Homo sapiens: one gene and its partners. The protein of the gene in region 3 purifies or fractionates together with the protein of the main gene of each other region. This does not show direct contact. Each region holds a gene or a part of one and is shown on either strand. Other genes may lie near its edges.

What was found.
Region 1: the proteins of ESD (region 3) and DIAPH2 purify together in Homo sapiens (affinity purification with mass spectrometry; one large-scale study listed by BioGRID and IntAct). This does not show direct contact.
Region 2: the proteins of ESD (region 3) and PITPNB fractionate together in Homo sapiens (co-fractionation; one large-scale study listed by BioGRID). This does not show direct contact.
Region 4: the proteins of ESD (region 3) and ACADM purify together in Homo sapiens (affinity purification with mass spectrometry; one large-scale study listed by BioGRID and IntAct). This does not show direct contact.
Region 5: the proteins of ESD (region 3) and FAXC fractionate together in Homo sapiens (co-fractionation; one large-scale study listed by BioGRID). This does not show direct contact.

What each region holds. Positions count from the first base shown.
Region 1 is NC_000023.11:96,911,212-96,916,008, forward strand, and holds part of DIAPH2 (protein diaphanous homolog 2), read left to right. Parts: intron 1-1,116; coding exon 1,117-1,191; intron 1,192-1,271; coding exon 1,272-1,341; intron 1,342-4,797. UniProt on the Homo sapiens protein: Could be involved in oogenesis. Involved in the regulation of endosome dynamics.
Region 2 is NC_000022.11:27,853,257-27,856,756, forward strand, and holds part of PITPNB (phosphatidylinositol transfer protein beta isoform), read right to left. Parts: intron 1,684-3,500; coding exon 1,636-1,683; 3' UTR 1,598-1,635; intron 408-1,597; coding exon of another isoform or gene 357-407; 3' UTR 1-356. UniProt on the Homo sapiens protein: Catalyzes the transfer of phosphatidylinositol and phosphatidylcholine between membranes. Also catalyzes the transfer of sphingomyelin.
Region 3 is NC_000013.11:46,790,029-46,794,825, forward strand, and holds part of ESD (S-formylglutathione hydrolase), read right to left. Parts: intron 3,417-4,797; 5' UTR 3,369-3,416; intron 1,393-3,368; 5' UTR 1,386-1,392; coding exon 1,318-1,385; intron 1-1,317.
Region 4 is NC_000001.11:75,755,143-75,759,939, reverse strand, and holds part of ACADM (medium-chain specific acyl-CoA dehydrogenase, mitochondrial isoform a precursor), read right to left. Parts: intron 1-4,797. UniProt on the Homo sapiens protein: Medium-chain specific acyl-CoA dehydrogenase is one of the acyl-CoA dehydrogenases that catalyze the first step of mitochondrial fatty acid beta-oxidation, an aerobic process breaking down fatty acids into acetyl-CoA and allowing the production of energy from fats.
Region 5 is NC_000006.12:99,339,065-99,343,861, reverse strand, and holds part of FAXC (failed axon connections homolog), read left to right. Parts: intron 1-828; coding exon 829-964; intron 965-4,797. UniProt on the Homo sapiens protein: May play a role in axonal development.

The DNA of each region.
Region 1 (4,797 bases), on a different chromosome or scaffold from region 3:
TCTGTCATTTTATAAAATGATTAAGAGAAAAGAATGAAGTTGGGGAATCACCAATTGGGAGTCTCCAGGCTTATTAAAGGAAAGATAACTAGGACTAAACCAGAATGTTAGCAGAGGCATTGGAAAGGAAGAAAGGGGCCATTTGGAGGAGGCATTCTAGAAGTAGAAGTAGAAGTAGAAGTAGAATATTTGTGAATAATGCTCTACATTAGCAGTGTTTCAGCCTTCTGCCACACAGGAGAATTTATGTCCAGCCAATCTCCTAAACCTGCGTACTCAGCTCCTGCCACATGGGTCTCCTCACAGTTCCTGGAACATTCTAAACACACTAGCTAATGCCTCATGACCCAATTTGCCCTTAATCCTTCTACTTGGAAAGTCCTCACTTTCAGAGTTCTGCTGAAATACCTAACCTTATCAAAGAATCTTTCCTGATCACACAATGAAAAATAGCAGCCTGCCACTCCTTTCATTCTATTTTCCAAGGTTTATTTTTCTTCATTGCATCAAAGCAATTATTACATTTATTATATAGTTAGTTATTTGTTCACTGTCTCCCTATCTCTAGATAGTAAAGTCCATGAGGCTAGTTGCTTAGTTTTGTTGCTTGTTATGTATCTCTCTCACCTAGAACATGCTTGGAACTTTGTAGACACTCGACAAATATTTGTTGACTGAATAAATAGAATAAATGCAAAGGTGAAAGAAATGGGTCATCAAATAATTATGCCAGTATTTCAAGTCTGAAGAATTAAAAGGGTAGTGATGTTATTAATAAAGTATCAAAGAGTGGAAGATAAGTTGACTTAGGGGTATGGAGACAGAGGAAGATGAATTCAGCTTGTGAATTCATGCTTAAGTATGTCATGCTGGTGAAACAACCAAGGCAGTGCTGTGTAATGGGCAATCTAAAATGTGGAGAAGTCTAGGATTGAGGCAAAGATCACTGAGTCATCCTCATAGAGTCAATACTTGAAGCAGTGGGAATTGAAAAAATAATGACAAGCAATATTGAGACAGAATTATCAGATTTGAAAATTAAAATTTTATTTTGGATATTTAATGTTTTAAAATTACTAACTTACTTATACATCTAATTTTTTGTTTATTTCTCAGCTGGGTTAACAACTTTGGCCATGAAGGTCTTGGACTCTTATTGGATGAGCTGGAAAAGCTTCTGGACAAAAAACAGTAAGAATAAACACTGAAATTAAAATCACCAAAGGGAAAATGTTTCAGCACAACATAATATACATTTTTCTTTTATTTAGGCAAGAAAATATTGACAAGAAGAATCAGTATAAACTTATTCAATGCCTCAAAGCATTTATGAATAATAAGGTAAGTAGTATTTATTTCTGCCCCTGTCACAAAAGGTGGGAACTTGCCCAACACTATGAAAGTATGAAATGAACAAAATATTTTTTTATTATTTTTTTTAATTTCCAGGGTACATGTATATAGGCGAACATGTGCCATGGTGGTTTGATGCACAAATCGACCCATCAACCTAAATAATAAACCCGGCATGCATTAACTCTTTTCCCTCATCATCTTCCCCACCCCGTACCTATTTTTTACTTATGTTTCTGCTGTACTAATTAATTGTAGACTAGTTATTACAGGCTTATAAATAATAAGTGTTTATAAAGTTTTACAGTGAGGTTAAATACACATTTGAAACCATATATAAAAGATAAATTTGATGTTTAATTTTCCAAAATGTGAGCTATTGTTAGTTTTCTCGATTTTTTTTTTTTTATTTCTATGCTGATATTTCATTTTAACCAAAGAAGTCCTCACAGCATCCAGAGGATTTCAGGGATGATATAACTTCTGTAGATCTAAATCTTTTAAAAAATGGAGCCCTATTCCAATGTTTCTTCTATTCAAATATATTGCTTTCATATAGGGAAGATAGATAAAACAGTACTTTCCATTGTCTATGCTGCTAATTTCCTCAGGAGGGTGAGCTAGTCAATGAAACAAACAAAAAAAATGATTGGAAAAAGTGTATTTGACTCTTGTCTATAATTTAGAAATGCTGTGTCTGATTCTTATTCTGTTTATTCCTCCAATAATTTCTTTCATGTGAACAGAGGTCTTTTTGATTTTATAGTATACTAAATGTTCAGAAAACATAACAAAAAGAAAGAAATGAACAAAATAGTGAGTGCTTGTTCAGTTTACAAAAGGGTCTTTATGATGTAAATCCTTATAATATTTAAGTAATACTTACATGAAAGTTATACTTTGCTTCACAAAATATTTATTGGTGGGTTTTTGAAATCATGCAAATGAATTAGTGTTGTTCCCAATTTTGGTAATAATGCTTTTTCTTTAATGGTAGTAGGAAAATTTAAATGTCGTTTGTTGAATATGTTTCCACACAGAGAATTTCTGTTCTATTGAAAAGGAAAATTATAGGGATGGGTTGACTTATTTGCTAAGAACATTGTAAGATTGAGATTTCTCTTTCTTTTATGTTTTATTAATGTCAGCAAGTTTACATACATATAAGACATCTCTGAAAAATTGCAGGGCTTTTTATGTATATGTATAATACTAGTTGTATTATAAGGGACCCTGTGAATTTTAGACAATAATTTTTCTTCTAAAAATAGACTTTACTCAGGTTATGAAGTTACAGTATTTTTTCTATAAACTATTTTTTTTACTGTCTTAGAAATGACCTCTTCATACCTATAGATAAAATACTATTGACTAATTCACTTAATTACCTAATTCCCTTTACATAGTATTTTAATAATCTCAAAATAGATAATAGAAATAATTACAACAACAAGTAGAAGTTTGCCAAATGTAAAATATGGCTATTAATAACCAATGCAATAAGATTATATATTAATCTATAGACAGTCTCAAGCATATGGAAATACATATAAGTATTTATATATTATACATACATGTATCAGCAAAGAATGTTACTGTATGAGCATATGCAATGAATGCTTGCTAGTGGACATGAGACTCCTGAATATGCTAGTTGTACTGTTTCTGGAAGTTTCTTACAGAAATATTCCCATCACTACTAGTACAGATTTTCTCAAAATCTGGGCTCTTAGTCTTTGGCTACAAAGTTAAACAGAATCTGATGCCCAACAAGGAAATAATGAGCATTGCTTCTTCACAGCTCAAGATAGATCTCTTTCGTCAATTGAGGGAAACAATGACATAATGGAAAGATAACACAGTTCTAGAATTCAGGAGATATATATAGTTCATGCTTTGTTCCTAATAAGTTGTGTGGCCTTTGGAAAATTACTTGACCTCTCTGAGTATCAGTCCCCTCATCTGTAAATTTAGCTATAGGACACTTTGTTCTAAATTCTTATTGACTCATGTTGTCAATTGTCGTGGCTTTTCAGGATGCTAAGTAATTTTAATCAGGACAGTCACTAGAGAGAGTCATAATAGTAAGATTCTTATAGAGCCCTTTTTTTTTTTAACAGAACATACTTTGATTTGTCAACATTTAGTTTCTTAAGAGTTTGGCAGTTTCGGAAAGCATAATGATTTGACTTAGATTATTCGAAATTGATGTTTTTAGTTAGGCCACGTTAATGTCTTGCACATAGGTGCTCAGAGCATGGATTAATGGATCTTTTGAATTATAGACATGTGAAACAATAGGCATAAAATATGCCTTCAGAATAGAAAATATGCAGTGATCTTTTCACTTCATGTTGGAATAAATTGTCCAGATCAAGGAATTAAGCTTTTATCCAAAATGACTTACACATCAAATTTTTTGGCCCCATGGAGTTTAGATTACCTACTTCAAAAACTCCTTTCTTTTATCCAATACATGTAACAATAGGATCATAAAAAGCAACCCATTGTTTCTTAACTTCCAGTACTATAATATTGCTCTGATGTTTGGATTAATGATTTTCCAGATATATTTTTCATGTCTTCTTTTTTATTTTTGATGTGTCTCTATATATTAAAAACTACTTATAAACATTAAGTAAAATTTTTAAAACCTAATGATTTCACTCTCAGTCTCAATGACTCATAAAGCTATTAAGTTTGGTAATTGCGTGGTCATTGTCTCTCAGTTTTGCAAATGTGTTTTTCACTAATATTCATTACTTTTAATCATCTACTGGCCACCTTTATACATACTTATCTATTTTGTTTTTGTTGCTTCTTTCAAGACTTGTTTCTTGCATTTTCTTTTTTTTTTTGGTCTTATCTCCATATATTTTCCTATTTATTATGACCTGTGATAAACTCACATTTAAGAGCTTTAGCTATGTTCCCCATCTGCCACTCGGAGTTCTTTTAGAAATTAAATTAGGGCTGATGGAACTATTCATATGGTTGGTAATTAACTGAAGTTTAGCTGAAATGGAAATTTTGCTCCGATGAAATATCCAATTTCACCATTAGACTGTAAAATGAAGCAAAAATATTTTATAAGAAATCTGAAAAATACTTTGTGGGACAAAGATAAAATAATATATTGCTTTCTTAATGTAATGAAAACTCAAGTTTTAGACTTTCATTAGAATTTCTTTACTTATTTATTAAGTGCGTGCATGCACACGCATGCACACACATATTCATGCTTAGAAAATAAATGAAAATGGTGTTTTCTCTCCTTAGTTGACTTGTGACACTTAATAAAACCCAGGTGCCATTTCTTTAGGTTCACAGCTTTTGTAGTGCAGCACAGCTGTCTGAATCAGGGAGGATAAGAGAGAGAAGGCATGGGAATATCCATACTGAGGCTTATACTGGCATATAGTATTCAAAAGAGCCTTTTAAAAA
Region 2 (3,500 bases), on a different chromosome or scaffold from region 3:
AACATACCAGCTAGTATTACATTGCAGTCAATTTGTCCATTAATGGTATTACTCTGATAATTATTAAAATCTGTTCCAGGTATATATATTGAAAATATTTTCTTTTGCATTCTTGCTGAAGATAGGTACAGTACTTTGGAGAAATTGTACTAATCCCTTCAGTATGTCTGTATGTACATATATACACAAGTGTGTGTATCTGGATCTGTAGCTCTACATGCGCTTTATATACAGCTACAGACATATGCACACATACATATATACACACGTGGTTGAGAACCTGTGCATGTGTGTGTATCATCACAAGCACACATCTGGGAAACGTCAACACTGCAAGATACTGGTCAGATTCTTCTTCACTCATCACTGGCTGCGCTTGTTCCCCTCACTTGACCTTGATTACGTAACTGTAAGAAAAGTGAAAGACAGTGCAAAATGTGTTAAAATACAGAGACAGGAAATGTTAGCAGCTCGTCACACACACTCTCCAAATGCATCAAAACTTTTGGCAGAAAATGTACCCCAACTACTGCATCTTACAATTTTCATCTGTTCAAAAAGATTTTGGTCTTACTACTAATGCCACAATATATTGTCTCATCAGAGGGGAAAATAAAGTCGAGGCAGAAATAAATCACAAAAACTTAGGAGAGTTTAACAAAAGTAACAATAACTTAAATTTTTTTTTTTTTAATGAACATGGAATTTAAAAGTGTTTGGGGGGAATCTTGGAAGAGTTACTTCATTCTTATTTGGCACAACTAGCTTTTCTCACAACTGAACATTTCATTCATCCCAATGTTCAAAAATTAAAGAGCAGGTAGCTCATGTGGGGCAGCAAAGAACCACAGTGGAGGGAGGGGAGTGCTACATCTCGTTCTCTTTATAATAAACATTATAGTTCAGTATAAACAAATGATGACAGCACACTGTTGATTTTTGTTTACTCACACTGGTTTCAATTTGTGAGGGAGATTTTGATTTTTTTTTTTTTGCATCTCTGGGAAAATTTGTTATATGGGCATATAATGTGTTAGAGAAATAAGACCACAAAAATGGTTCACACCATAAATTAAAACTAAAGTGCATTTACGCAGAGTAAAGCTAACTGTAACAACTGAAGACGAAATATCAAGGAAGACTTTCTGGTGCACAGAAAATATTGCAGCCAAAATAAATTATTGAGGTTGGCTCGTATGGTATGGGATAGAGGATCTTTATTTGATCTCAAGTGATTTTGCATATTTCCTTACTAACCACAAATGGTTCTACAAAGAACCAGGTCAATTAACTCAGTATTGAAAAATCAGCTGGCTTCCAGGACAATGTGCTACATGATGAGTAACAGCACCTGGCAGCTGGGTTCTAACCCATAACACTAAAAACTAACCCAGGATTACTAAATTCAACCTGGTCCACAGGTAAAATTTTTAAAGACTATTAATAAGTGTTCACTATTAATTTCTAAAATATTTATCTTTTAAATTCTAAAAATAAAACCACATTTAACACTTAGAGCTTCTGCTCAGCAAGTTAACTGCCCATCACCAAAAAGGTACAGGTTTCGAAACATCTTTTTACCCAGGTCTTCACTTACACAGTTTGACATTGTCTCTGACCCTACAGGGGACTCATCTAGACATCAGCAGCCGACGTGCCTCGAACGGAACCCCTCTTACGCATCTAAACGTAAAATAAAATTGTGAGCTGCTGAAATCAGACTCTAAATAGGGGTTAGTAAGCAAGGGGAGAAAAAAGATCTAGAAGAGATTATGAAGTGATGTTCATAACCATATCCACATTAAGAATGAAGTTCTGTGGCCCCTCAAATAACCTTGGTTTGAAGACATTCTTGCAAAAGGCTTTTCTTAGCACAAAAAAGGTTTATCTATCCTTAACTGTAAAAAACAAAAGCCTGCAGACTGATAAAAAATTATCAAAAACAGCCAATGGGTAAACAAATTGTTTGCCAATATAATGTGAGAAAATACCCCAAGGGTCTGGTCCATATTTGCATAGTCCCTAGGCCAGACAAGCAAGCCATGAGGGTGTGGGCCACACCTCTTTGCTGCTTCTGAGAACAGGGTCTCTCAGTGGAGTCCTTTAAAGGAAGTTTACTGAAAGGAGGGAGAATGAAAGGGAGAAAAGGCAAGGAGGGAGAATGAAAGGGAGAAAAGGCAAGCACAGAAACAATGTATGGCAAACCATGAAGGGCACACAGATGTATTAGAAAGGACAGGCATTCATAACAATAGCCTCCAGACAAGTGACACCACTCAATGAGAAAACAAAAAACGAAATGAACAGAAAACAAACAAATGCAATAAATACGTTAAAACTCAACACATCCTCACCCCCACCCCGGAACCGGAGGTGCCAGTTAAGAACAAACAGGTAAAATGTTTACCTAAAGTCCTCCTTCAGCTGCTGAGCCTCAACTCCAGGGCAGTTCCCTGCAGATCATAGGCAGGGGCATTCCTCGTGTGCCTAACCTCTCAAGATGCTAGTTCTCTCCAGGGCCAAAACCCATTTGAAAGAAATCCAATTCTTAAAATATTTGTGAATTAAGAGCATTATAATGTCATTAAAATCTATCATCAGGTGTCAGGGGTCAGGACCTCAAGGAAAAAGAAATTTCTGCGTGTGAAGAGGACTCTAAAATGGGATGCCTCTTCAGGAGGCAGGTGCTTTCTGGGTAGGCATTCTTGGCCTGCAGGCTTGATGCTGCCCAGATTCTGAGGATGCTTTCACAAAGCCACCATTAGGACTCAAAGCAGCAGCATCTTGATTCTGTGTGTGGAACCAAGCACTCCCCAATGACCTACAGCAAAATAACTTAAATGGGATTCAACGTTAAGATGCACCACTTAATGGTGAAATTTGTCTTAAAATGTTTTTGAGATATTTGACAAAGCAACTGCTATGTACCCTCACTCTGAACCAATGATAGATTTTCCACCAGCTTTATGAGGGGGTTAATCAGTTTCAGCAATGTGGGTATAAGAATGGTGACACTAAGGAATTGGGCTTTTACTTGTCTATCTTACACCTTCTTCTCGAGTGCAATTCCCAACTCACAAATAACTGATCTGCATGGAGCAGCAGCTGCACCTGCAGGCCCACTGCCATAGGTGAGAGCAAGAGTCACCAGCTCCACAGCGGAGGGTCACAGCGTGTTGAGGCTGGGACCATTCTGTGTTCAGGTATCGTGAGGCTGAGGACTTGTTAGAGAAGCAAGAGCACTTCCCTGGGGGAAGAAATCTCAGTCAAGTTCTGTCCAAGGGGTCCAGAGATAGGTAGGGTTTAGAGTCCAAACCAGATAGGGCTTATCACCTGGTCAATGGTAACTACTCTTCCCCATGTGACACACAGTTCTTCAGCATAAAAATTAAAAACTGAGAGAAGGGCTCTTTCCCAAGGGTTTGAGCTGTTGGTAAATCCTTGTAGGAAATGCCAGTGCTGCATCATGGGCTTAGCGTGTTTGGGTGTCTCTTGCTGCT
Region 3 (4,797 bases):
ACAGGGTTTCACCATGTTGGCCAGGTTGGTCTCGAACTCCTGACCTCAGGTGATCTGCCTGCCTTGGCCTCCCAAAGTGTTAGTATTACAGGTGTAAGTCACCACACCTGGCCATGTACTTGAATATTTTTTAATAGCATCCTATGAAGTCAAGAGGTCAATATCTTTTATACTTTGATATGAAGAGAAGTTCATATCAAATTAAAGACTTTATACAAATGTCTAGTGATCTTTAGCTGTCCACTCCTATTTAAGAGAGAAACACTAAAAATCTAGTTGAAAGCACTGTGCCTACAGGTGGAGTTGTCAATCATTGCTTTACTGTAAGGTCTGGTTAGGTTACTTTGTTGGCAAATCTCAGTATCTTGAAATCTCTTCCTTTGGGCTACTCAAACTCCCCACAAAGAAATTCTTCTAAAGGATATAAGACTAAGTCCCCAAATTTTGAAAGCTAGTGGAAGAAACTCAGTGTGCAAACTTTTGCTTAATCTATTTGCAGTATCACAATCCCACTAATTGTGTCTGGTATTCCCCAGTACAAACAGTTTACTTTCTCTAGAGAACTTACCTCCAATCTTTCCCAGAGTTAGGAAGAGGCAGTCCATAAAGCTGGGACACTCTCAGATCTATCTCCTTTTAAAAACAGACTTTCAATTAATCTTTTTTCTAAGCTCAACTTTTATCCTTATTTTCAGGGGTCCCTGGTGCCTCCAATTACTATGGCTTTAAATAAATTGTGTCATTTCTCAGGTTTTCTTGCTTATGTTTAGAATGTAGCTTTCTAGGTTTTACTAAGTCAGGTACTACCTCTCCATTTGTATTCCTGCTTCTAAAATGTTATTCTTAGCTCCTGTCTCCTGCTTCTTTATGCCTTTATAGGTATATGTATGTGTGCGTGTGTGTTTAATCTCTTTACTTAATGCCATGTTAGTCAGAGTTTTGGAGGCAGCGGAAGCAAATGCATGTGTTTAGTGTGCCATCTTTCTCAAAAAGTCCAGGTGTTTTTCCTACACTTAGAGATCCTCAAAGAAAATGTTTTCAGAATTTTTACTGGCAACATAAGCATTTTCATAAAGTTTCAGAAGAGCATCATGTCAAAGCTTGAAGATACTTCTCTGTTAAGGCTCTACCTCACACAATCACATCCACAGTTAATTAAGTCTGGTAGAATTGTCAAATACATAACCACAGAAAGAGAGTAAGCAAGTTTAAAAGTAAAATGAGGTACTATAATATCTAGATAAAGATTGGTTTTAAAATAGAACAAAATAATCCAACAGAATGAGGTATCTAAAATTATATCTTCTTAATAGTTACCTGTCATGTTCAAAAACTTTCTGCAATCCCCCAAAGCACTTGTTGCTGGAAATCTGCTTCAATGCCATTCTTTTCCTATTAGTAAAGAGTAATCTCATTAATTTCCAGAGAATTAGTTACTGAAAAACTTGAAACAAAACTAATTGCCTTCAGATAAATTATCTGAACATACAACTATTTTCTACTTAGAATTTTTTTTTCACATTTTTCTCCAGTAAATAATATTAAGAAACTGATTAACGCTCATACATGCATTTACACTTGTTACTCACTTTTAAAAGCTTTCATACTTTGGTATATCATTACTAATTTATTAACAAGTTTTTTCGTTGTGGTGGACTGCCCCAAATTATTTTTAAAAGAGGCAGAAAATACATAAGTTACCAATTAATTACCTTAGTTTAGAAGATTAAAAATTGTTAATAGTCTGCCTATCAACTGCAACAAAGTAGTCAAGGAATTGGTATGACTGATTATAGTTGATTTTAAAATGGAAGAAAGATGTGATAATGATTTTGGTAATAATAATATGTAACATTACTGAACACTTACGGTGTGATACACATTTTTCTAGACACTAAACCAGATCCAATTACTCATCCCATGAATTTTTAAGAGAAAGTGATATGAAACTTTAAGATCAACATTTATTTCTCCTTTTAAAACAAACCAATAAGTAAAACAAGCCTGTTAACTTCTTTTCTGTCCAACAAATCTTTTGTTTTCATGTAAAAATAATTTTAAACTTACATGTAAAATGACATATTTTATTGCTTTTAATGATAAATACAGGAAAAAAGTTGGAAAACTATCTTTATCATAAATGCCTATTAAGCAAAGGGAAACCACACTGATTCTGACATGTACCTCTCAAAGAAAGATTCCCTTTCTATTCCTAGAAACACTGTATTAGAATATAAGGCAGTAAGTCCTACATATTGAAGAAAAAGCTTTAGATATCAGGAACAGGTATTACCACCCTGGTGATCTTCTCAGAGAAATGCACTACTACATGCTAATCAGCTGGAGCTTTAGGATTACTCTTTCAAAGATGTATAACAATAATCTTAAAAAGCTAATTTTGGAAATGTCTTTATAAAATACTTTAAAAAATTAGTTTCAATCTTATCTCTAATTTCTTCAATAAACCCAAATAGTTTTATTTTGGAAGACTGGGATTTGAACCCAGAAGTCTGACATCAGAAGCCCTACTCTTAACTGCTATGCTGTCCTGACTCTCTAGAGGTTCTTTAAATACTCATTTTTTAAGACACTTTAAGATAACTGATTCTATAGAATTATGATATTACAACTGTACACAAAGAAATTACCATCTGCTCAGTTTTATGCTTTTAATCTATAAAAGATTAATTCTTAAACAATAAACTCCCATGAGATGTTATTAGTTACTGAATATTAACTTTAGCTACTGTTAACAATCCTATCTTAAATAATGAACTTATAGAGAGAGATACTAATTTTAATATATTAATACATATATATGAGACCAACAAATAAAATTTATTTGCTCCATTATTCCACAAGGAAACCAGATTTTCTTAAACTTAGAAAGGACTATATCCACTTTGCAAAAGATGGTACACTGAGCACGTATCTGGTACATAGGAGTCTGTATCTTTGCTATTCGTCTATTTTAATAAACCTCAAGTTGTCAGTTTTCTCTGCTCTTAAAATTCAAAATCAAATGCTTTTCATTTGGCCAGAAGAAACAAGATTAAAACACTTTTTAAAAGTTGGTAGAATATTTTTTAAAAAACAAAGCTTTTAAAGTATTTTTTCTACCCACCATTTTAGAAACTATCTTTAATTACAAATCAAAAAAATATGTTAGGCTTAACAAGAAATATGACATAAACTAAGAACTAGATATGACATACTGTGATATACTATGATATCTGATACATTATAATAGGTGGTTATATTTTTCAATAGAATTTTTCTATGTGAAAAATAGCACGTTTTAAAACAAGCTATTAGTGGTATTTTCATTCAATGTTCAGAGTAACATATAAACAATAAAACAAGTTTACCTGTCCAATTGCTGATTGCTTTTTGCTTGCACCAAATGGTAGGCGATTCTGAAAAAAACACCAATGGTTTACAAATGGGATATACTTTTCACAGCAAAGGTTATACAGAGCTTTTATATGCATATGCATTCTCAATAGAGATGTTTTCTTCTTTTGAGGTAAATGACTGTACACCCTGATGGGATACCACATCACCACTTAATTACCTTAATTGCCCATAATCTAATTATTTGCCACAGGCCACCTTAATACCTATTTTGCCATAAAGCTTGTTGGTACTTGGTCAAAACCATCTGCTGAAGTAAAAGTACTATGAAAGTTTTTTATCTTTTTAAATCAATAAACAAAGTTTTCAAGTGTAATTTCGAAGCATGAGATGTAGTCAACTCCTGAGTGAAGAAAATAAGAGTGGGGACTAGGTAAGTAGAGGAAGATGGATCTATCTGGCTCAGTTGTAAGTCGAACTTGTAACATGGGGAGAAAGAAGGGAAGAGATGAGGACTGAAGGACTACTACTAGGGTGACTAGAAAGGATGTATAAGAAAAGTGGGCTTATGAACGATGAAGTGACTGATATTCAGTAAGAAAAATATATATGGAAACTTACATAGTATATATCATGTCACTTATCTGGTAGATTTCATTTAGGCTCTAGAACAAATATATATTTAGGTTCTAGAACAGATTTTGTGGGAGAAATAGGGTGACAGAGTAGGGTGGAATACCAAAAAACCAAACAACACCCTTCCTCCTTCCCCTCCAAAAAACAACAACAACAACAACAACAACAAAAACAGAAAAACAATTTCACAGTGCCAGTGGGAGTTACACAATTTTTCCCAAATGTTAGTGAACATCAACATTCTTTGGAGAAGAAAGGGTCTCTCAGTGCATAATACATCCATTCCCCTAAAGGTCAAACCTTACTGTTCTTCCCTTTATTTTTTATTTTTTGGAGATGGGGTCTTGGCTGTGTGGCCCAGGTTGTAGTACAGTTGCATAATCATGACTCAGTGTAACCTAGAACTCCAAGCTTCAAGTGTTCTCCTACCTCAGCCTCCTGAGCAGCTAGGACTACAGGTGCGTACCACACTGGAATATTTTTTTTTTTAATTTTTTGTAGAGACAGGGCCCTTTACTTATTAAAGTTAAATGTCATCCACCTCCAGAAATCTGAGTTCTATTTTTATCCTTCTTCCCCTGTGTCTCAAGTTTTCCATAAATCTCTACATGTGTTTTTTTGTTCCCATTCTCTCAGATTCCTTGGATTTTGATGTTTCTTCATTTCCAGGATGTCCTATTCCACTGGCTCTTAACAACCTAGACAGGTGTTCCCAAAACCAACAATCTACAGTTCCAATAACTGCTGTTGACCACCACTGTGTTGTTCAAATCCTCTTCTCAGTGAAAACTCAGGATCTGGCTTCTT
Region 4 (4,797 bases), on a different chromosome or scaffold from region 3:
CCTGTAATCCCAGCACTTTGAGAGGCCGAGGCGGGCAGATCACCTGAGGTTGGGAGTTTGAGACGAGCCTGACCAACATGGATAAACCCCGTCTCTACTAAAAATACAAAATTAGCCAGGCATGGTGGCACATGCTTGTAATACCAGCTACTCAGGAGGCTGAGGCAGAAGAATCGCTTAAACCTGGGAGGTGGAGGTTGTGGTGAGCCAAGATCACACCATTGCACTCCAGCCTGGGCAACAAAAGCAAAACTCTGTCTCAAAAAAAAAAAAAAAAAAAAAAGAAAGTTGCTACAGATAGAGAAAAATAATGTGGCACTGTATCAGATACCAAGACAGAGGAAAGGACAACTAAAAGATGCTTCTTAGACTCTAGAGGCTCAGAATTAAATAGAAGACATAAAACAAATACTTTCAATAAGGGATAGTAAGTGCTCTATGAGTTAGTTATATGGCCAAGATATGTTATAGGATGGAAATATGTTCCTGTTCCCTGGCATACAACTCCTAAATTCCTTGGGATCTCCAACGTGCTGTCTTTTGTCTGCTAGGTTCAGCGTGGTGCTGGTCACTGGAAAGACGATGGCAGGATTAGAGGGTTGGGAGTTTCAGCCCCAACCCTACAACCTCCAGGGAGGGGAGAGGGGCTACAAGTCAAGTTAAATCATCAATGACCAATGGTTTAATTAATCATGCCTATGTAATGAAGCCTCCATGAACACCCAAGAGTGTGTCCAGAGTTGGTTCCTTCCAGTGGGTTCTTGGTCTTGCTGACTTCAAGAATGAAGCCACAGACCTTCGCGGTGTTACAGCTCTTAAAGATGGTGTGTCTGGAGTTTGTTCCTTCAGATGTGTCCAGAGTTTCTTCCTTCCAGTGGGTTCGTGGTCTTGCTGACTTCAGGAATGAAGCCGCGGACCTCCGTGGCAAGTGTTACAGCTCTTAAAGGTGGTGTGGACCCAAAGAGTAAGCAGCAGCAAGATTTATTGTGAAGAGCAAAAGAACAAAGCTTCCACAGCGTGGAAAGGGACCAAAGCAGGTTGCCGCTGCAGGCTGGGGTGGCCAGTTTTTATTCCCTTATTTGTCCCCACCCATATCCTGCTGATTGGTCCATTTTACAGAGTGCTGGTTGGTCCATTTTACAGAGTGCTGACTGGTGCATTTACAATCCTTTAGCTAGACACAGAGCGCTGATTCGTGCATTTTTACACAGTGCTGATTGGTGAGTTTACAATCCTTTAGCTAGACACAGCACTGATTGGTGCATTTTTACAGAGCACTGATTGGTGTGTTTACAATCCTTTAGCTAGACAGAGAGTGCTGATTAGTGCATTTTTACAGAGTGCTGATTGGTGTGTTTACAATCATCTAGCTAGACAGACAAGTCCTCCAAGTCCCCACTCGACCCAGGAAGTCCAGCTGGCTTCACCTCTCAAGAGGACAGGGTTTGGAGAGCTTCCAGAGGTTCCTACAGGGTGAGATTCCCAGGGAGAGCATGGAAGCCATATGCATCTTCCCTCATACCTTACCCTGCACATCTCTTCATCTGTATCCTTTAAAATATCCTTCCTGGCTGGGCGTGGTGGCTCACACCTGTAATCCCAGCACTTTGGGACGCCAAGGTGGGTGGATCACCTGAGGTCAGGAGTTTGAGACCAGCCTGGCCAACATGATGAAACCCTGTCTCTACTTAAAAAACAAACAAACAAAAAAAGGCCAGGCATGGTGGCAGGTGCCTGTAATCCCAGCTATGTGGGAGGCTGAGGGAGGAGAATCAATTGAACCCAGGAGGCAGAGGTTGCAGTGAGCCAAGATTACGCCATTACACTCCAGCCTGGGCAACAAGAGGGAGACTCTGTATGAAAAAAATAATAATTAAAAAAAAAGTAAAAAAATTAGATATCCTTCCTAATAAACTGGTAAATGTGTTTCCCTGAGTTCTGTGAGCTGCTTTAGCAAATTACTGGAATTCACAGATGAGGTCATGGGAACCCCAACTTGAAGCCAGTCAGCCAGAAGTTCTGGAGTCCAGGACTTGCAACTAGGGGAAAAGAAGGGGCAGTCTTGTGAGACTAAGCCTGTGGGATCTGATGCTATCTCTGGGTAGGTAGTGTCAGAACTAAGTTGGAGGATACCCAGCTAGTGTCTGTTGCTTGGTGTGGGTGGGAAATCCTCCTACATCTTTGGTCATAGAAGTCTTTATAGCAGCATGATTTATAATCCTTTGGGTATATACCCAGCAATGGGATTGCTGGGTCAAATGGCATTTCTAGTTCTAGATCCTTGAGAAATTGCCACACTGTCTTCCACAATGGTTGAACTAGTTTACAGTCCCACCAACAGTGTAAAAGTATTCCTATTTCTCCACATCCTCTCCAGCACCTGTTGTTTCCTGACTTTTTAATGATTGCCATTCTAAATGATATGAGATGGTATCTCATTGTGGTTTTGATTTGCATTTCTCTGATGGCCAGTGATGATGAGCATTTTTTCATGTGTCTGTTGGATGCATAAATGTCTTCTTTTGAGAAGTGTCTGTTCATATCCTTCACCCACTTTTTGATAGGGTTGATTTTTTTCTTGTAAATTTGTTTGAGTTCATTGTAGATTCTGGATATTAGCCCTTTGTCAGATGGGTAGATTATAAAAATTTTCTCCCATTCTGTAGGTTGCCTGTTCACTCTGATGGTAGTTTCTTTTGCTGTGCAGAAACTCTTGAGTTTAATTAGATCCCAATTGTCAATTTTGGCTTTTGTTTCCATTGCTTCTGGTGTTTTAGACATGAAGTCCTTGCCCATGTCTATGTCCTGAATGGTACTGCCTAGGTTTTCTTCTAGGGTTCTTATGGTTTTAGGTCTAACATTTAAGTCTTTAATCCATCTTGAATTAATTTTTATATAAGGTAAGGAAGGGATCCAGTTTCAGCTTTCTACATATGGCTAGCCAGTTTTCCCAGCACCATTTATTAAATAGGGAATCCTTCCCCCATTTCTTGTGTTTGTCAGGTTTGTCAAAGATCAGATGGTTGTAGACATGTGGTATTATTTCCAAGGGCTCTATTCTGTTCCATTTGTCTATATATCTGTTTTGGTACCAGTACCATGCTGTTTTGGTTACTGTAGCCTTGTAGTATAGTTTGAAGTCAGGTAGCATGATGCATCCATCTTTGTTGTTTTGGCTTAGGATTGTCTGGGCAATGTGGGCTTTTTTGGTTCCATATGAACTTTAAAGTAGTTTTTTCCAATTCTGTGAAGAAAGTCATTGGTAGCTTGAAGGGGATGGCACTGAATCTATAAATTACCTTGGGCAATATGGCCATTTTCACGATATTGATTCTTCCTACCCATGAGCATGGAATGTTCTTCCACTTGTTTGTGTCCTCTTTTATTTCATTGAGTGGTGGTTTGTGGTTCTCCTTGAAGAGGTCCTTCACATCCCTTGTAAGTTGTATTCCTAGGTATTTTATTCTCTTTGAAGCAATTGTGAATGGGAGTTCACTCATGATTTGGCTCTCTGTGTGTTGTTGGTGTATAGGAATGCTTGTGATTTTTGCACATTGATTTTGTATCCAGAGACTTTGCTGAAGTTGCTTATCTGCTTAAGGAGATTTTGGGATGATATGATGGGGTTTTCTAAATAAACAATCATGACATGTGCAAACAGGGACAATTTGACTTCCTCTTTTCCTAACTGAATACCCTTTATTTCCTTCTCTTGCCTGACTGCCCTGGCCAGAGCTTCCAACACTATGTTGAAGAGGAGTGGTGAGAGAAGGTATCCCTGTCTTGTGCCAGTTTTCAAAGGGAATTCTTCCAGATTTTGCCCATTCAGTATGATATTGGCTGTGGGTTTGTCATAAATAGCTATTATTTTGAGATACATTCCATCAATACCTAGTTTATTGAGTTTTTAGCATGAAGAACTGTTGAATTTTGCTGAAGGCCTTTTCTGCATCTATTGAGATAATCATAAGTTTTTGTCGTTGGTTCTGTATGTGATGGATTACATTTATTGATTCAAGGTATGTTGAATCAGCCTTGCATCCCAGGGAGAAAGCTGACTTGATCGTGGTGGATAAGCTTTTTGATGTGCTGCTGGATTCAGTTTGCCAGTATCCTCCTTTAGCTCGGAGAAGTTTGTTATTACCAATCATCTGAAGCCTTCTTCTCTCAACTCGTCATTCTCCATCCAGCTTTCTTCCGTTGCTGGCGAGGAGCTGCATTCCTTTGGAGGAGAAGAGGCACTCTTGATTTGTAGAATTTTCAGCTTTTCTGCTCTGGTTTCTCCCCATCTTTGTGGGTTTATCTACCTTTGGTCTTTGGTGATGGTGACGTACAGATGCGGTTTTGGTGTGAATGTCCTTTCTGTTTGTTAGTTTTCCTTCTATCAGTCAGGACCCTCAGCTGCAGGTCTGTTGGAGTTTGCTGGAGGTCCACTCCAGACCCTCTTTGCCTGGGTATCACCAGCAGAGGCTGCAGAACTGCAAATATTGCAGAATGACAAACATTGCTGCCTGATTGTTCCTCTGGAAGCTTCGTCTCAGAGGGGCACCCGGACGTATGAGGTGTCAATCGGCCCCTACTGGGAGGTCTCTCCCAGTTAGGCTACTCAGGGGTCAGGGACCCACTTGAGGAGGCAGTCTGTCTGTTCTCAGATCTCAAACTCCATTCTGGGAGGACCACTACTCTCTTCAAAGCTTTCAGACAGGGAGGTTTAAGTCTGCAGAAGTTTCTGCTGCCTTTTGTTCAGCTATGCCCTGCCCCCAGAGGGGAGTCTACAGCAACAAGCAGGCCTCCTTG
Region 5 (4,797 bases), on a different chromosome or scaffold from region 3:
CTGGGAAGGCAGAAAATAAGGAAGACAGAGCTAGAGAGAGAGCATCCAGAAGGCAGGTTCCATGGCATTACAGGTGAAAGAAGGGTTAGGTGAGGGCATGGGCAGTTGGGAAGAGGGACCAGAATTTCAGTCTCAGATTCCCTACAGACTTGGGTCATAGCAGAGCAAATCTGCACTGTTATTCCTGGGTCTTATGGATGAATAGACTGTTTCATGGTATAGTCTAATGGCCAAAACCATGGGCTCTGACTTCTTGGTTGAGTGCCCATTCTGCCATAACTAGCAATGTGACTTTGGGCAAGTTAATCCTCTGTGCCTTAATTTCCTCATCTATAAAACGTGGATAACAGTAGTACCTACTTCATAAGGTTATTATGAAGATTAAAGGAGATAAGACCCATGAGACCCTCAGAACAATGTGTGACACACAGCAAGCACAGAATATCATTTTTATCCATCCAGCTTGTCCTAGCAGGTAAATACAGCCGGCTGGAGAATAGGTGGACCAGTACTAGAAAATGTTCTTGCTGCCCGGAGGCCATAGGTAACAGAAGGAGGTTGTTATGTAGTTACTTTGCTGAGCCAGTGGGGTCATGGTAATATCATGGGAGTTTGTAAGGTTCTCTTGAGTTTTGACTAAGCTTCCATGAGTGCTGGGTGAGGTAAGCCCCTTCGACAAACTGGGTGCTGGGTGATGTAAGCCCCTGTGACAAACAGATCTGCTTGTTCATTGAGGAGCTACAACCCTGCAGGGTCCTCTCAAGAAATAAGGGAACCGAATGTGGATAACATGTGGATTGTACTTTATTTCTGTTTTGGTTTTGACAGGAAACAGCAAGAGATTGACTCTAAAGATGCTATTATTTTGCATCAGTTTGCAAGACCTAACAATGGTGTTCCAAGTTTATCTCCTTTCTGTTTAAAGATGGAAACTTATTTAAGGATGGCTGACTTACCGTATCAGGTACTTGTGTGCAAATATGTTTTCTTTTTATGACATCAGTATCAGGGGATGAGTATTTAACTAAAGGGGGGAATATTTCGTCTCACACAGTGGATGCCAGAGGGGATGGGAGCTGAAACTAGCAGTGCCTAATCCTTAGTAAGAGGGAAATAAAATACTTGATTCCAGGGTCTGTTGATAATGATGGATCAAAAAGGTCTAAACTTTTGAGAGATTCAGCGCCATGATATTTTTCTTTAACAGAGTATTCTTTGGGCTGGGCACGGTGGTTCACGCCTTTAATCCCAGCACTTTGGGAGGCCAAGGCAGGCGGATCACTTGAGGTCAGGAGTCTGAGGCCAGCCTGGCCAACATGGTGAAACCCTGTCTCTACTAAAAATACACAAATTGGCTGGGCTAGTGGCAGACGCCTGTAATCCCAGCTACCTGGGAGGCTGAGGCAGGAGAATCACTTGAACCGGGGAAGCAGAGGTTACAGTGAGCCGAGATTGCACCACTGTACTCCAGTCTGGGTGACAGAGCAAGACTCCATCTCAAAAAAAAAAAAAAAAGTATGCTTTGGTTAATAGTTTGGACAGGCCTACTGAGCCTTGACAAAGATGGGTGTGCCACTGCCTGATGTGGTTTTTTACTTTAGGTTTTAGTTTATTGACAGCATCGTATTTTGTCCCTCATGAATCTTGGGGGCAGAAGGCCCAGTAGGCCACGAGGTAGATATTTGTGTATGTGGTGAGAGCTTTTCCACAGCACTCCATGTTCTGTTTGTGTGACTTTCAGGGAAACACTTGTTCATTTTAGCAGTAAATAAGGAAGAGGAGTGTACTTAAAGGTATATATTTCTCTCTGAGTAATGCTTGAGCTGTGTCTCACAAAGTCAACACGCTGTGTTTTCATAGTCATTCAATTCTATGTATTTTTTTTAAAAGTTCACTTATGTTTTTATTTTTAACCAAGTTCTAGCCATATGGAACTATTTTAAGCTTTGATTTTTGTTATCATTTTTAATTTGATGGTCAGAGAAGATAGTCTCTGTGATATTGATTCCTTGGAATTCACTGAAGCTTTAGCCTGGTTTGTAGTTACTTTTTTAAAATGTTGAAAATAATTACATATTCTCTGTTTGGATATAGAGAGCTCTCTATAGATCTACTTGCTTAAACACGTTTAGTGTATTATTTAGACCTTCTGTATTTCTGCTTATTTTTTTGTCTGAAAGGAGCATGTTAAAATATTCAAGTGTATCTGTTGATTTGTCTCTTTCCTGTCATTCTGTCTGTTCTTGCTTTATGTTAGAGTATTTATATATTTTAGGTTACATTGTTAGGTACATATAAAAGTTCACATCTTTTACTCTTGTTTATTTTTCTAGTATGTATCCTCCATTGATGTCTCTTCCTATTTTTTAAAAAACTTGAATTCTGTGTTATCAGATATTGAGATAGATTCTCCAGCCTTCTTTTGGTTCATATTTGCTTAGGATATCTTTCTTCATTCTCTCTCTCTTTTTCTCGCCCTCTCTCTTTTTGTATTTATTTCTCTCTTATATCTAATTGGAGAGTCTTTTAATTGGCAACTTTAATCCATTTATACTTATTGAAATGATTGTTTTATTAGAACTTATTTCTAATATCTTATTTAATATTTTTCTCCTTACTATACTTCATTTTAAATTTCTTCTCATTTCCTGCTTTCTAATAGATATTTTTTCTCATTTAAAACAAATTATATTTTTGTTGTTATTGTAGTTACTCTTAAGACCCAAATTTGTGTTTATGCTTATTAATTTGTTAAATGAATTAAAGTCTGTATTTATTCTGTTATAATACAAACACATTAGCAGTTTACGTGTACCTTGGGTCTCTTCCTTTCTTCCCAGCCCTGATCCCAATTGTGTTGCTGTTGTCTAAGATTTTAATTCTGGAATTTTTTGGCCGGGCACGGTGGCTCACGCTTGTAATCCTAGCACTTTGAGAGGCCGAGGAGGATGGATCCCTTGAGGCCAGGAGTTCAAGACCAGCCTGACCAACATGGCGAAACCCCATCTCTATTAAAAATACGAAAATTAGCCAGGTGTGGTGGTGTGTACCTGTAATCCCAGCTACTTGGGAGGCTGAGGCAGGAGAAGTACTTGGACCCGGGAGGCAGAGGTTGCAGTGAGCCAAGATTGTGCCATTGCACTCCAGCCTGGGTGACAGAACCAGACTCCATAAAAAAAAAAAAAAAAAAAAAAAGGAATTTTAGCAATTCTTATCCTTTCTTTTTTATCCTTTTTAGGCAACAAACTTTAGTATGTTATTTGACTAGCCTTATTTCCCATATATCTTATTATAAAGGATTTATCTTTTTATTTGAGAACTTCCCTGATGAATATCTTTAGAGTGAGTCTTTATGTGGCAAACCTTCAGTGGCTTTGCATGCCTGAGAATATAGTTATTATACTCTCACATTTGATAAATTTATGTTCAAAGTTCTTTTCCTTCTATATTTTAAAAATATTAGGCCAGGCTGGTGGCTCATGCCTGTAATCCCAGCACTTTGGGAGGCTGAGGCTGGTGGATCGTCTGAGGTCAGGAGTTCAAGACCAGCCTGGCCAACATGGTGAAACCCCATCTCTATTAAAAATACAAAAATTAGCTGGGCGGTAGTGGCGTGTGCCTGTAATCCCAGCTACTCGGGAGGCTGAGGCAGGAGAATCGCTTGAAGTGGGGAGGTGGAGGTTGTGGTGAGCCGAGATCACGCCACTGCACTCTAGTCTGGGAGACAGAGTGAGACCCTGTCTCAAAAAAAAAGAAAATTGATGTTAATCTCATTCTTCTTTCTCTTTCTCTCTAAATTATCTTAGAATTTGTATTTAATCTTAATATTCTCAAGTTTCAATATGGCATGTGTTGGTGTGGGTCTTTATATATCCTGTTTGGTCCTTTATAAACTCTTATTATCTGAGGTCTTTCATCTCTTTTGAATTCTGGAGAATTAATTATCAATTTTGTTAAAATATTTCCTTTTCTTTTATGTTTGTTTTTCTTTTCCCTCTTCTTCCTTGTTCCCTATTATCCAGATTTTGGAAACTCTGCTTCTATTTTCTATGTCTCTCTACTCTCTACTTGAATTCTTTTCTGCTTCTTTCTGGAAGCATTCCTCTCTCTGAGCTTCCTTTGCATTGCTCTATGTGTGTTTGTTGTTGTTGTTTGTTTGTTTTTGTATCCATTATGCTATTTACCCCATCTATTGTGTTCCTTATTCCAACTTTTGTATTTTTCTTCTTAATGTTTTCTTTCAGTTTGTATTAGTAATCTCTTCCTTTATCCATTGGAGGATATTTATTATGTTACTTAAATTTTTTGGTCTGTCCCAATAATTCTGCTTCATGTCGTATAATTCAGTGCACTGCCCTTCTCATAGTAGTGGTACTTATCTAGTTATTTTGGTTTGAGAACTCCTTTTACCAGGGATGCCAACTTCTCTGCCTGGGAATTTGTACTGGACGAGGGCTAAAGCCCAGGCCACAGGTCCTGTACCTCTGAGGGAGTTTAAAAAAAGAAAGGAGGTGAGCCTCAGGCATCCCCAAACTACTCTGGTCCTTTTGCTTTGCTGCCATTCCCCCAAATGGCTCCTGCAGCTCCGGGGTTCACCTTTAGACTCTTATAAAGCACCAACACTGGGAGGAGGTATTTTCCTCAGGTTGTAACAGACCAACTGGGAGGTTGGAGGGGGTGGGCTCCCCACTCAGCCAAGCTTTTGCCTGCCCCAATAATGATATTACTCCTCCAGCTCCTGACTCCCCATAGCCTGTGCTTTTTGAGATAGCTTCTGTAGAGAAGAGGGGAAGGGGG